Linked DNA regions of Homo sapiens. The protein of the gene in region 1 binds, or shares a complex with, the protein of each later gene. Each region holds a gene or a part of one and is shown in the gene's direction. Other genes may lie near its edges.

What was found.
Region 2: KCMF1 (region 1) and CALM1 share a complex: the UniProt entries of both Homo sapiens proteins name them as parts of the SIFI complex.

What each region holds. Positions count from the first base shown.
Region 1 is NC_000002.12:84,967,331-84,974,176, forward strand, and holds the start of KCMF1 (E3 ubiquitin-protein ligase KCMF1), read left to right. Parts: upstream 1-3,830; 5' UTR 3,831-4,121; coding exon 4,122-4,137; intron 4,138-4,520; exon of another isoform or gene 4,521-4,870; coding exon of another isoform or gene 4,871-4,910; intron 4,911-6,846. UniProt on the Homo sapiens protein: E3 ubiquitin-protein ligase which accepts ubiquitin from an E2 ubiquitin-conjugating enzyme and then transfers it to targeted substrates, promoting their degradation by the proteasome.
Region 2 is NC_000014.9:90,392,559-90,400,028, forward strand, and holds the start of CALM1 (calmodulin-1), read left to right. Parts: upstream 1-4,470; 5' UTR 4,471-4,672; coding exon 4,673-4,675; intron 4,676-5,608; exon of another isoform or gene 5,609-6,523; coding exon of another isoform or gene 6,524-6,529; intron 6,530-7,470. UniProt on the Homo sapiens protein: Calmodulin acts as part of a calcium signal transduction pathway by mediating the control of a large number of enzymes, ion channels, aquaporins and other proteins through calcium-binding. Calcium-binding is required for the activation of calmodulin.

The sequences.
Region 1 (6,846 bases):
GGGACTACAGATGCCCACCACCACGCCTGGCTAATTTTTTTGTATTTTTAGTAGAGACAGGGTTTCACCATTTAGCCAGGATGCTCTCGATCTCTTGACCTCGTGATCCGCCCATCTCCGCCTCCCAAAGTGCTGGGGTTACAGGCGTGAGCCACTGCACCCGGCCAAGAGCTTGCTTTCCTTATCTTAATTCAGGTTTACTGAAGTATAATTTATATAGAAGTAAAAACCACCCTTTGGCTGGGTGCGGAGGCTCACGCCTGTAATCCCAGCACTTTGGGTGGCCGAGGCGGGTAGATCACTTGAGGTCAGGAGTTCGAGACCAGCCTGGCCAACATGGTGAAACCCCGCCTCTACTTAAAATACAAAAAATTAGCCGGGCGTGGTGGTATGCACCTGTAATCCCAGCTACTTGGGAGGCTGAGGCAGGAGAATCGCTTGAATCCGGGAGGCGGAGGTTGCAATGAGCCGAGATCACACCATTGCACTCCAGCCTGGGGGACAAGAGCGAGACTTCATCTAAAAAAAAAAAAAAAAAAAAAAACCACCCTTTTAGGTGTATAGTTCTATGAGTTTTGACAGATTCACAGAGTCATCCAGTAATGTAAATACCACAATCAAGTTAGAGAATATTCTCATCATCTCAAAAAGTGTGATCAGTCCACCCTTCCCCAGCTCCAGTTGCCAGTAACCATTGATCTAATTTCTGTCCCTATACTTTAATTTTTTACTTTGAAATAATCATTTACCCATAGGTAGTTGCAAAGAGGGCCCAGGTACACTTTCTCAAATGGGAACATCTTACAAAGCTATGGAAAAATATCAAAAGCCAGGAAACTGACATTGGTACAATACTATCAAGTAGACTACAGACCTTATTCAGATTTCACCAGTGCTTACATCCATTAGCTTATTTGAAAAAACATAATTGGGCCATAGTATGAAAGAAGGGTCAGCCTAGCAAAAACACGCATTAGTTACAGTTGTCCACAGAAGAAAGGAGAACTCAGGAGGGTGCAGAGAGAGGAAGGGACTGGAGGAAAACATTTCTGGAGTGGAACAAAAATCATTTGGTAGACAATTTGGTATAAGGATTTAAATTAATCCTTCTTGATCTTCTTTTCTTTTTTGAGACAGAGTGTCACACTGTCACTCAGACTAGGATGTGGTGGTACAATCACGGCTCACTGCAGACTCGACCTCCTGGGCTCAAGCAATCCTCCCACCTCAGCCTCCTGAGTATTTGGGACCAAAGGCGGATGCCACCACGCCCAGCTAATTTTTTTTTTTTTTTTGAGACGGAGTCTCACTCTGTCATCCAGGCTGGAATGCTCCCAGGTTCAAGCAGTTCTCTGCCTCAGCCTCCCAAGTAGCTGGGATTACAGGCGCGTGCCACCACATCAGGCTAATTTTTGTATTTTTAGTAGAGATGGGGTTTCACCATCTTGGCCAGGCTGATCTTGAACTCCTGACCTCGTGATCCACCTGCCTCGGCCTCCCAAAGTGCTGGGATTACAGGTATGAGCCACTGCTCCTGGCCGCTAATTTTTATATTTTCCGTAGAGATAGGGTTTCGCCCAGGCTGGAAATTAATCCTTTTTTTGGAAATGAAATTTCCCATATGGCAGGGCAGCAAGCAAAAGGTTGTTTTAAATTGAACAGCCTGACCGCTAAGTGAATGAAGGTCATGAAAACCCCAAATAACCATAATATTTCTGCTTACTCTTATTTAAAGAGGAAAAAAAATGGTTTAGTTACTCTCTCCTTACTCTTGCCTGACTGAAAAAAATGAAGTAACTGTCGAAAACAAAGTTATCTGTTTAGTTAGCTAACCCTCTGCAAAACCAAGCAAATGAAATCTCTATATTTACTCTTAGTCCCTCCTGCAGTTCAGTACTGTTGTAGGCTTTCCTATCTGCTCCACCATTTTATCAGACTACAGCACTGATAATGCCTTAATCTCTATACAATTTATTTATAGACATCACTTACCCATCAGGAGACAATGGGATCAGCGTTGTTCTCCCCATTTTTACAGCCCAAGAAATTGAGGCTCCTGATACCCAGGATCACATATGCCAACACCGTAAAATGCTCAGAAAGGCATCGACACAGAGCTTTACTTAATACCCTTCTTTCTACTCCACCACACCCCATTTACGGCCAGGTTGGATCTCTTTCTACAAGAGAAATGGAATAAATTTGTGCAGGAGCTCCATACAGGCAATAAAAATATCTCTGGTGACAAAGTCCTCATTTAAACTCCAGTTTGTTTATCACTAGTTACTACCAAATACAGTCCCTTGGGAGTTCTGAGTGACCCAAAACCTACTTCCTGGACTTCAAGATGAGCTTTTAGTTTCTTTGAAATCAGGAAGTGTCTTAAAACCAGATTCAATGAAATACGGTAACAATCTTTTTACTGTGTCCTGTGCTAGGTATTTTATATGCATTTTAGCACTTAACCTCCAAACCTCTTATTATTAAACCTCTGTTGTTACGTCCATTTTAAAGATAGAAAAGTCAGGGCACAGAGAGGTTTAGAGATCACACAGCCAGCAAATGGTGGACAGTATAAGAGTAACCTCAAAGCAAGCAGTACCCCAGATTCCAATTTCAGTTGACTTAGCCTGGTAACAGTTCAATTTTATGCAAAACCCACAACTTCAAATGGAAAAAGATAAATTAAAACAACCACAAAAACCAGACAAATGGAGGCTCAGCAGGCCTTGTAGCTCATCCACGGTTACACAGAGGATCTCAGAGCCAAAATTCCATGGCCGATCCGTCTTGACTTCAAAGCGCGATCTATTTCCACCAAACCACGGAACCATCGACACGTGGTAAGGGGCAGTACAAAGATTTGTTGAATTAATAATGCCTGAAAACAAATTGACAATAAGAAGGTAAAAATGGAAAACACAGATAAAATCGGAAAAGCAGACCACTTTCAGGAAACAAAAAACTCCAAATTTTCAAGGCAGGGCATTCACGGTGAGCCAAGGCGCTGGGACAAAGTTTGCGCGGGTACCGCCGGACTCCCGGGCTGCCCGGCGCGGAGTCTTTAACGGAGATGGTTCGCAAGGAATCGGCCTCGGAGCCCGGCAGCCTCCTGGCTTCCCTCCTGACCACCAGTAACCCGGCCGGGAAACACTGGCGAAGACCGGGGGCCAGTCGCCTTCCCTTTCTGGGCTGTTGGCTTAAAATACACACAAACACAAGTCCCCAGGCGGTCCGCGGCCTCTCAGTGGGGCTGGAGCTCGCTGCCCGAGGCCCGCCCGGAAGCCATGCACCTGCGGACAGGAGTCTCTCCGAGTCGCAGCTCGCCGCCGAGAAGCACCCACCTCCCGCGGCCGGCGCAGCCCAAGGCCCTGGCCCCTATAGCCCGGCCTAGGCCCGCCCCAGGCGGGGCTAGGGGCGGCGTGGCGGGCGGGCGCCCCTCGGGCCGCGCCGGTGAGCAGCGGGAGCCGGCGCCGGGCATTTCCTCTTCCTCCCTACGCGCGGCGCGGCGGCGGCGGCGGCGGCCAGGCCGAGGCTGGGCACGGGCGCCCGATCGCGGCCTGCTGGCTAGCGCGGGCAAGCGCCGCGCCCCGAGCCGCCGTCGCCGCGTCGCCCCCGTCGCGACCGCCGGCCGCGGGGCCTCCGGGCGGCTGGGCCCGGCGAGGGCAGCGAGAGGCGGGGCTGGCGTGCGGGCGGCGGAAGGAGGCGGAGGAGGAGGAAGAGGAGGAGGAGGAGGCGGCGGCCGGGAGCCGGGGGAGAGGGGCGGGGGGTGGGCCGGGGGAGGGGAGGAGCGGGATTTGCGGAGCGCCGCGCCGCTGCCGGGAGCCGGCAGGCCCGAGAGTGACCGGAGTCACGGCGGGCGCCGGCGGAGCTGCGGCGTCGGACCCGCCTCCTGGAGGAGCTCAGCCCCGACCAGGCCCGGCCCCATTCCCGCCCCGCGCCGCCTCCCCGCCGCCGCCGCCGCCGCCGCCGCGGGAGCGCTCCCCTGCCCACCCCGCCCCCGCGGCCGAGCCCGGGAGTCGAGTGGGAGTCGGCCGGCCGGCGCGGGCAGCGCCGGGACCCCGCGGGGGACACTGCAGCCGGAGCCCGGGAGGGGCCGCGCCGCCACCGTCTGAACTAGGATGTCCCGACATGAAGGTGAGAGGAGCCCCCGCCCCCACCCGCACCTCCCGGGCCTCGGCCTACCCCGCCCGGGCCGGGCGCGGCGGAGGGCGGCCGGGAAGCGGCGGAGACTTTGGCCGAGCCCGAGCCGGGCCCGAGGCGCTGGACCCGGGAGCGAGCGAGCGAGGGCGGAGAGCCGCGGCGCCGCTGCCGCCACGGCCGCGGCCCTTAGCTGGGCCTGGTGCTGGAGGCGGGGCGGCCCGGGCGGCCGGAGGGTTTGCACTGTCATGGGGCGGAGGGGGAGGGGAGGCGGCGGGGCCCGTTACCGGCGGGAGCTCGGCCTTCGGGACTGATACCGGACGCCAAGGCCCGCCCGGCCGGTTCAGGAGCCGCGGGCCCCAGCGCGGCCTAGCGCTCCCGCCGCCCCGGAAGAGCCCGGTGTGGTCGCAGAGCCGGGCCGCGGGCGGCAGCAGGAGGCAAAAGAGCCGGCCCGGGACCCGGCAGGCGCGTCCGGTCGCCGGGAGACGACGGCGAGTGTCCCCGCCTGCGGGCGACCGCGGGGCTGGCGGGAAGGCTCTGCGGCCAAGGGACGGGAAGCCCTCGCCGCCTGGAGCCCGCCCCGGCCTCGCGGCTAGGCCTCGGCGCGTCCCTGGGCTCGGGTAACCAAGTTCCCGGGGTGGATCCGACCCCGCCGCAGCAAGCAAACTCCCTGCTCAGTCACCCAGGCGGAGCAGGGCTCGCTCCCCGCGGCCCTGGTGCCCTCGCCGGCATGTGCTGCCTACCAGACCAGGTTTTGGAAAATGACGATGGTGAGGTCTGTTCATGGTCGGGGGTCGTTTTGGACCTTGTTTTGCCATTTTAAAACACGATTGGAGTACAGTTGCAAATAAGCAGACAGCTCTAAGCCCAGTCCCAGGGCACAAAGAGACAAATGTTTAGGGTCGATGTATAGGCTTTGAGCTGGTAAGAAATAAGTTAACTTTAATTTATTGCCATATGGTTTAGAAAAGGAGGAGGGGGTTGTGTTTTCTTTGTTTCACTACTACAGGTTTTTGGATAAAAAGTGTTAAGAGTCTTGGCGAAAAGTTTGTCCTGCTAAGGTTAATACAAGATTGTAGAAGTGGCTTGAAAGTTTGTGTACTCCGGATTTTAAAATCCTGTATAGGTGATGTAGGAGTGGAGAAAGTTTAGTGAGTCAGTTTAGTGTGTGCTTAGCACTATGGGAAGGATATTCTTTGGGAAATACGGACCTTAGAATTTCAAGGCTGAAAAACTCAGATTGATTAAAATTGTATTTAGAACAAGTTTCAAAATTCGCATTACTAATTGCGACGTTGAAATTGACTCAACATTCTGTGTTCAACGATTCTGTATTTTAAAAGTTACAAAACTAATATGAAATATACTATATTTTCTTCGCAAAGCATTTGTTGAGTACTTACAGTGTTCAAGTGTTGGGCATTTTGAAATAATGAGGTACCTAGCCTCATTGAAAGGGACACAGAAGTAGGAAGCTATGCCTCTTTTCCCCACTTCGTCTGCTTAATCGAAATGTATCCTTATCTCTGTAATTTTAAGAACTCGTAATTAAAGTTATAATCAGTTTTCAATTTGGGATATTAAAGTTTATCTTAAACTGTAGTCCTGTGTACATTGACCACCTTCAAGACAAAACAAAAGTGAGCAATGGCTGCAAGCTCTCTTACTCTTGAAAACTGGGAGGGTTAGTTAGAGAATCACAGCCATGGAAGAGTGTTTCAGACCCATTCTCCTTGGTCTAAGAAAGCATACAGATAGTTCCAGACGAGCATTCTAATTGAAGTGTCCTGGGAAGAAAATTCCTTCACCCCCAGTGCTCTGTTAGAGTAATTAAAATCTCATATTTGGAACATTCTTGAATGTAACATATATTCTGTAATTTAAGCCCATTTCCCCCCATTTGGTGCTGTGCAAAGGTGTGTGGTTATGAAACTTATATTACCTTTTAGTTACTTGAATATTGCTGAACCTCAGCACACTAGTAGCACACCTTTCCTAGTAACTTATGTTAATGTCAGTAAATAGAACATACCTAATGAAAAAGGAACATACCTAAATACATCTGTTGAAGACTTATAGTACAATATTCGACAAGTGATTCTCTTTCAAGGGTCTAGTTTATGGCCTAAGACAGGAATAGCAGTCTCACGAATCACATTTAACTCATTAGATACATATTTTGTGGAATATTAGTTCAGACTGTCATTATTGTCATCAGTAAGACTTTGACCTATCAGTAAATACAGTGTTTGGCACCCTTGCTATTAGTTCTTTTCTTACCTTTGCCTTTTTTGGGCCAAAGAATCCCATTTCTTTCAGCATTTCTTTCTTTCTTTCTTTTTCTTTATTTCTTTCTTTTTTTTTTTTTTTTTTTTTTAGCTGGAGTCTCACTCTGTCACCAGGTTGGAGTGCAGTGGCGTGATCTCGGCTCACTGCAACTTCCACCTCCCAGATTCAAGCAGTTCTCCTGCCTCAGCCTCCCAAGTAGCTGGGATTACAGGCGCCTGCCACCACACCCATCCAATTTTTGTATTTTTAGTAGAGATCGGGTTTCATCATGTTGGTCAGGCTGGTCTTGAACTCCTGACCTCAGGTGATCCACCCGCCTTGGCCTCCCAAAGTGCTGGGATTACAGGCGTGAGCCACCACGCCCAGCCTCCGTGTTTCTTTAGTGGTGTAATTTTTGCACTCTCAGTCATCTGTCCA
Region 2 (7,470 bases), on another chromosome or scaffold:
CTGACTCTCAAACCAACCAACCAACCAACCATATGTGTCTCTACCTCTCTCTCACACACACAATTGGATGTTTGACAGTGAGCAAGCCTCTTGACCTCTCTAGACCTCAGAGGCAAAATGAGAAGTGTCCTCCAGCTAGAAAGCATCACAAATTAAATGTTTTGCTTTAGGTTTTCTTCCCCAAACACTCCATATTCCTTATGTAAAAATAGAGCCATTACTACATTCCTATGATCGTATTTTAAATTATTGGGTAAGAAGTATCTCTTTATAAACCAAATTTTCATCTTAATCTTTGCCACTTCTGCCTCCTACCCCAAATTAAAATAAAAATAAATTCTACTACATTGCAGGAGATAGTTATAATGTAATGCTTAAGTGCTTGGGCTCTCAGCTAGATTTTTGGGTTCCACTTAAATTAGGCAAGTCACTGACTCGTTCAGTGCCTCAGTTCCTTTGTAAGAATAATGATACCTGTTTCACAGGATGGGTAGGAGGATGAAATAATACATTTAGCACAAGGCCTGGCCATAGTCAATGCTGAGTAATTATTTTTTATTTTTATTTTTTGAGACAGAGTCTTGTACTGTTGCCCAGGCTGGAGTGCAGTGGTGCGATCTCTGCTGACTGCAACATCTGCCTCCCAGGTTCAAGCGATTCTCCTGCCTTAGTCTTCTGAATAGCTGGGATTACAGGTGCCTGCCACCACGCCCAGCTTATTTTTTGTATTTTTAGTAGAGACAGGGTTTCACTATGTTGGCCAGGCTGGTCTTGAACTCCTGACCTCATGATCCACATGCCTCAGCCTCCCAAGGTGCTGGGATTACAGGTGTCAGCCACCATGCCGAGCAAGTAATTGTTATTTTTAAACTATTTCCATTTCTCCATTTGCATTCTCCATTTCTCCATCTTCAATATATGTATATGTGTGTATACATATATATGACAGAGGTTATATATGTATATGTTATAATCATATAACCTCAGACACAGGGTTTCACAGCTAGAAGGAATTTCTACATCAAGTACAAAACTCTTGTTACATCTGTGTCCTTTCTGTCAGATTCAGAGGGTTAGAGTGATTTGGTTAGTGACGGAAATGATACTTAAACATGAGATTCCTGGCTTGAGGCTGCATCGTTTTTACTTTTCTTCCATTTACTTTTATCTTATTTAAATAACTTCCTATAGAACAATTTCCTTTAAATATGAAATGTTCCATAGGTTTTTGGTTCTCAGTAAATTATGATATTACAATAATGCGGTTTATTCTCCTGATTGCTGATCTCTTCATAAATTAGGACGTGTATTCACTTAAAGCAGTCTATTTGATAATGAAAACCCAGTGATTTCTAAATAGGCAGTCAGAAGAATCTGCTTTATGAAACAGACAAACCCCTAACATTGGGCCTTTAAAATGTTCGGATATCAAGACCACGAATATATTATCTAAATTAGAGCCCCTGAGCAAGGACTCAAGCTCTATTTTATGCCCCATCCCTGACTCACAGTAAGATCCTGGGCAAGTCACTTGACCTTCTTATATTTCAGAGTGTCAAACTGTGAAAAGCATGTCCATAAAACTGTGCAAGCATGACCTCATTATAAACCCGATGAACTTGAAAGCAAAGATGTGCTTTGATACATTAAAGAATTACCAAAATAGAACTCTAGTTTGTAAAATATGAAGAATCAGGAAAATAAATTTTACTATACTAAGTAAAAGGATTCTGAAATGTACAGTTTTTAGCAAGTAAAGTCATAAAAAGTTTCAAAATGTTATATTTAGGTGAAATAAGGTTAATGACAGAGGAAAAATATTATTTTAGAGAATGCTTGGCTTTCAAAACCATAGATTGTAGCAACTTAACCAAAATAATCACAAGGAATGGAAGACTATCAGAAACGAGTAGATCCTTAATAATTAAACACATTTCTAGGCCATTATTTCCCCCTACTTATACAATGCATATCATGTTTTAAAATGTATTTCACTGGCTGGGAGCGGTGGCTCACACCTGTAATCCCAGCACTTTGGGAGGCCGAGGCAGGTGGATCACTTGAAGTCAGGAGTTCGAGACCAGCCTGGCCAACATGGTGAAACCCCATCTCTACTAAAAATACAAAAATTAGCCAGGCGTGGTGGCAGGCACCTGTACCTGTAATCCCAGCTACTCAGGGGGCTGAGGCAGGAGAATCGCTTGAACCCACAAGGCGAAGGTTGCAGTGAGCTGAGATTGCACCACTGCACTCCAGCCTGGGCAACAGAGTGAGGCTCTGTCTCAAAAAAAAAAGAAAAAATGTATTTCACTAACTACTATATGAAAAGCCCCAGAGAAAGAATACCAATACCCTTAGGAAAGAAGCAGTTTTAGTATTATTATTATTATTGGATGGAGTCTCGCTCTGTCACCAGGCTGGAATGCGATGGCGCTATCTTGGCTCACTGCAACCTCCGATGCCCTGGTTCAAGGGATTCTCCTGCCTCAGCCTACTGAAAGTAGCTGAGATTACAGGCACGCGCCACCACACCCAGCTAATTTTTGTATTTTTAGTAGAGACAAGGTTTCACTATGTTGGCCAGGATGGTCTCGATCTCCTGACCTTGTGATCCGCCTGCTTCGGCCTCCCCAAGTGCTGGGATTACAGGTGTGAGCCACCGCGCCCGGCCAAGATGCAGTTTTAATAAGGAGTTTGGCCATTTAGGCTTGTAACTGACTGGATTATTGCATATTCTTTAAAATTAATTTGTATTAGTCCCTTTTCTTCTATTTCCTTATCTCCAACTCTCGCATTAGTATGCACGCTTTATTCCTACTCAGGTTTTCCCCTATGAGCCCAGGAGTATTATTATTATTTTTTTGCAGGGATTAGGATCAGGTTTGTGAAGTGAATAGTGTCTTTCTAATCTGCAGAGGGAAGGCAGCATCCCCTGGCTTGCTGCTGCAGCCTCTCTTTAAATTAAACAGCAGGTTCACTCTTTCTGCGGCATTCCAGAAGGAACATCAGTAGGAACAGCTCCACAGATGCTGACGTCTTGTCTAAGGTTATCCCAAGAAGTCCTGTGGCATTTGCAATGTGCCTGTACATTTTTCCTTTTTTAAAAAACATATTCCTGCAGACTTTGTTGAAAGCAGAAACAAACACAAGCAAGCAAAGCCCTTTCTAGCACAGCATGTTAATCACACACTTTGCCATATTCTGTGAAACAGTAAGCAAATGATAACCTCCAACTGTTGCCCGGGCCCTGTAAAACAGAAGATCAAATTCTGTGTTCTGCCTTGGCAAGAAAAGAAACTGCAGCATTTTGTCTAGATTTTTACAAGTCCTGGGGTTCACATTACTGGCTGAAATTGTTCTTTCTCTACTTTACAGAAAAATGGAAAACACTAGTAAACTTAAAGATTTAAATATTATTTTAAAAGGAATATAATAAAAAATGGAAAACACTAGTATATTTAAAGATTTAAATAGTCTTTTAAAAGGAATATAATCAAAACTGTAGTTTAAAATACAATCTAGCTCCATAAGAGAGGCAATTGGCTGTGTGTTCCACTTGTAATGCAGAGGATTTGAAGCATCTATTTTTTCCCTTGTTTCTATGGATTTATGAATAAAGACTCTGACCCTTCTCAGGATCAGGAAAATTACGAAAAATTTAAAGCCTGGGTTTAAGGTCTGTAGAAGCTGCACAGGTACACTAATTTTAGTAAGACGGGCGCCAGGAAAAAGAACAAAATAGTAGGGGAGAAATATTCAGGCATCCTAAAAAATATTCAGTGGAAACGTAAAAACATTAAAGACTGATTAAACATCGCAGCATGACACAGATTTAGCAACTGAGCATAAATAATTTGACTCGGATACTGCTCCAAAATCCGAAGAGGACCAATTTCTTCCAGGAGGACAACTACCTCGTCCTCTGCAGACCCCTCTCCTCGGCAGCTGAAGGAGTGTGGCCAATCTGCCTCCACCTCCCCGCGGACCCCCTACTCTCAGGACCTCCTGCAGCACCCCAAACTGGAAGTGGCCGCTGCAGACCCAAGGACGAGGGGCACGCGGGAGCCGGCAGCCCTAGTGGAGCGGTTGGAGATGTTGAGGTGGGAGGGTCACCCAGGTGGGGTGAGGCTGGGGTAGGTAGCGGAGTGAACGGCTTCCGAAGCTCTGGGCCGCCCCCAGGTTGGACTAAGCAGGCGCTCTGTCTTCGCCCCCGCCCAGGGTGGGCGTCTCCTGAGGACTCCCCGCCACACCTGACCCGAGACCGCGCGCCCAGCCTAGAACGCTTCCCCGACCCAGCGTAGGGCCGCCGCGACTGGCGCGCAGGGGGCGGCGGGAGGCCTGGCGAACCCGGGGGCGGGACCAGGCGGGCAAGGCCCGGCTGCCGCAGCGCCGCTCTGCGCGAGGCGGCTCCGCCGCGGCGGAGGGATACGGCGCACCATATATATATCGCGGGGCGCAGACTCGCGCTCCGGCAGTGGTGCTGGGAGTGTCGTGGACGCCGTGCCGTTACTCGTAGTCAGGCGGCGGCGCAGGCGGCGGCGGCGGCATAGCGCACAGCGCGCCTTAGCAGCAGCAGCAGCAGCAGCGGCATCGGAGGTACCCCCGCCGTCGCAGCCCCCGCGCTGGTGCAGCCACCCTCGCTCCCTCTGCTCTTCCTCCCTTCGCTCGCACCATGGTAGGTCGGGAGTGGCAAATGCCGGCGTAGCAGCTGCCCGAGATTTCTTCCCAGATTTCTAGTTGTTTTGTTTGTTTTTTGTTTGTTTTTGGTTCTTGGAGGTTTTTCTTTTCTGAGTGTTACGCAGCAGCTGCGCTTAAAGGAGGTTGCATTTTGGATTTGCATCTCGGCGACCTCTGCCAGGGAGCTTCATTTATTGGTTCCCCTTGGAGCTGGACTTGGTCGTAGGCCGTCCACGGGCAGGGGCTCCGGCCGCAACTGCAGCGGGGGTTTCTGCATCCAATCCCCCTGCCCCCCGCCCAGCCCCGCACCCACTGCATCCACTAGCGCCGCACCCGGGCTGCCTGCAGCGCAGCGTTTCGGCCTGGGAGCCGGGCGGGGCCGGGCACTAGACCCCCCCCCCCGGCCCGCCCCTCCCCACCCCGCTTCTCCGCCGGCGCGAAGGTGGCAGGTCGGGCGGGCAGTGGAGAATGAATGGGCTGGAGCTGGCCGGTGGCGCACATTGTTCCGGCCGGGTGTTGAGGGGCGCAGTCAGCGCCCGCCACCTCCCCACTTTGGCCGGCCCTGCTGGGCGCCCTCCCTCGGTCGCTCTCCCCTCCTTCTTCCCGGGGGGCGCGGCGCGGGCGTGGGCTGGGAAGGAAGGAGCCGGGGAAGGGTGGGGTTGGGGGCAGGAAGGCGAGGGGTTGGGGGCGGAGAGGGCGGAAGCGGCGGCCGGGCCGCCCTGCGCCCGGGCGGGGCCCTGCGGTGTGGCCGTGGCTTGTTCCTGCCGCTTTCGCACCCTGCGGCCCCCCACCCAGTGCAGCAGTGCGGGCGGGCGTGAGCCTCGGTGCACCAGGAGGCACTTCCCGCGGGAGGCGCTGGGCTCGCGCTAATTGGGGCGGGGGGGGGGGGCGGCGGGGGAGGAGGGAACTGGCGCGCGGCTTGGTTTCCATTAGAGACGCAAAGTTTCTGCTCCGGGAGGAGGCGGCGGCGCCGCGGGCTCGTCGCCTGGGGGAGCAGAAGCGGGTGGGAGGTGCGGGTGGCCTTGGCCTCAGCCCTGGTGCGCGGGGGCCGGGGGTGGTGACCCTCCTGGCCGAGGAGGGGCGGCGTCCAGACGCCCGCTCGGGGGCCGCCTTCCCCCCCACGCCTGCCCCCGGGCACGCGCCCTGCCCGGTCCCTCGCCCCGCGCCACTTCCAGTCCGCAGAGAGATGCCCTCCACGTTTCTGCTTTCTCTGCAGCCTCTAGATTGCCAGATGCGACTGTGCGCCTCGCTGGGTGTGTTTTCCACAGCCCCTTCCTCCTCGGCGTGCAGGGCTGACATCACCGACTGCGTTTCTGGTTTGGCGGGTGGGGAGATGGTTCCCCGCAGGGTTCTGGTACACCTTTGCCCCCAGGGCTAGCGCCATTTGGGGGAGGAGGTTTTCGTTGTCGAGAAAGTTGGATGCTCCTGGTAACCCCTCTAACAAGAGAGTTCTGTAGCGAGGTGGGACTGTTCTCCCCATAAGGTGACAGTTTCTCTTGCGAGGTGTGGCAGCGCTTCCTGTTGTACAAGACAGATGTTGCCTTGGCGTTACGTAAATCATCGTGTCTCCGTCATTTAAAGAAAGCCAATTTTTAGTGATTGAGGTAGAAAGAAAGATCCGTTTATAATTTGTAAAAACAAATTTTCACCCAGAATCAATATATTGGAACACCATTCCTACTGTTAAAGTTTTCACTTAAGAGTATAAACTTCATCAGCTTTCTATTAGGACTTATTTTGTAATTGGCTTCTTAGGCATCCTTCTTTAAAAGAGAAATCCACGTTAGCTCTCCTTGAGGTCTCGAGTTCCCTCGGCTGGAGGCACAGGTTCAGTGGAGACCAAATAATGCAGGTGAATTACCTTCGTGGCCATTACTGCCTCCAACGAAGTGTGTTTATTAAGAACAGTTCTTATGTCATTCTTAAGGTAGGTAGGGTTAATACTCTCCAGCAAATTTAGTAGATACTCTTTGCCAGAAAAGAGAGGAGTATATATAGTTTGATAATTATTGTGTAGTTTTCTGTGTACTTAATTTTTGCAGTTTTGTAACACTTCATTTGTAAGATGGTACCATTTTTTCCTGGCTTCTGAATCATAGGATAGTTTGACCCAGGGCATTAGCCATTGTAATGGTAGGCTTTTAACAAATAACTGCCTAATTTAAAGGATTGGAAAGCATTTGTTACATGGAAATGAAGTTGGTGGCGTACCCAGTTGCTGTATCTTTATTTTTTCTACTTAATTATTTCTCATAAAATGGATATAAAAGCCTGTTAATCCAACCCAATGCCATTATGTAACGCCAGTTTGGAGATTTCGAGGGCCTGGAGCAGTGCGCAAGGTGCGCTGAAAGCCTGCCCCTGGATGAGATCCTTATCCTGGCTGTGATGGCAGTGGCAGTGGGCTGGGTCCCTTGTTGAGTGGAAAGGGGGACTGCGGTGTCCATGGTGCAGTAGGTGGCGCTCTTCTGTCTTAGAGCCTGCCGCCACTGCAGCTGGTGCCAAGGGGCCTTCTGCCACTAGAGGTGCCATTTTTCACATGATGAACTTAGCCTAGTTAGATCGCAGAGCAAGCTGTAAGCCATGGGCCCAGAAAAGAAAACTTGAAGTGAGCAGATGTTGTCACTTCCTTGTAATCCTTTGTTAAAATAGCATAAGGAGTTTTCTTTATTCTATTTACTTTCATTAAATGACCGTGCTACAGGTTTCAAAGGATTTTAAGATTGATTTTTGAAAGATCACAATATTAAAAGTATAACTGGAAAACCTATGTTGAAATCAACCAAACATGTC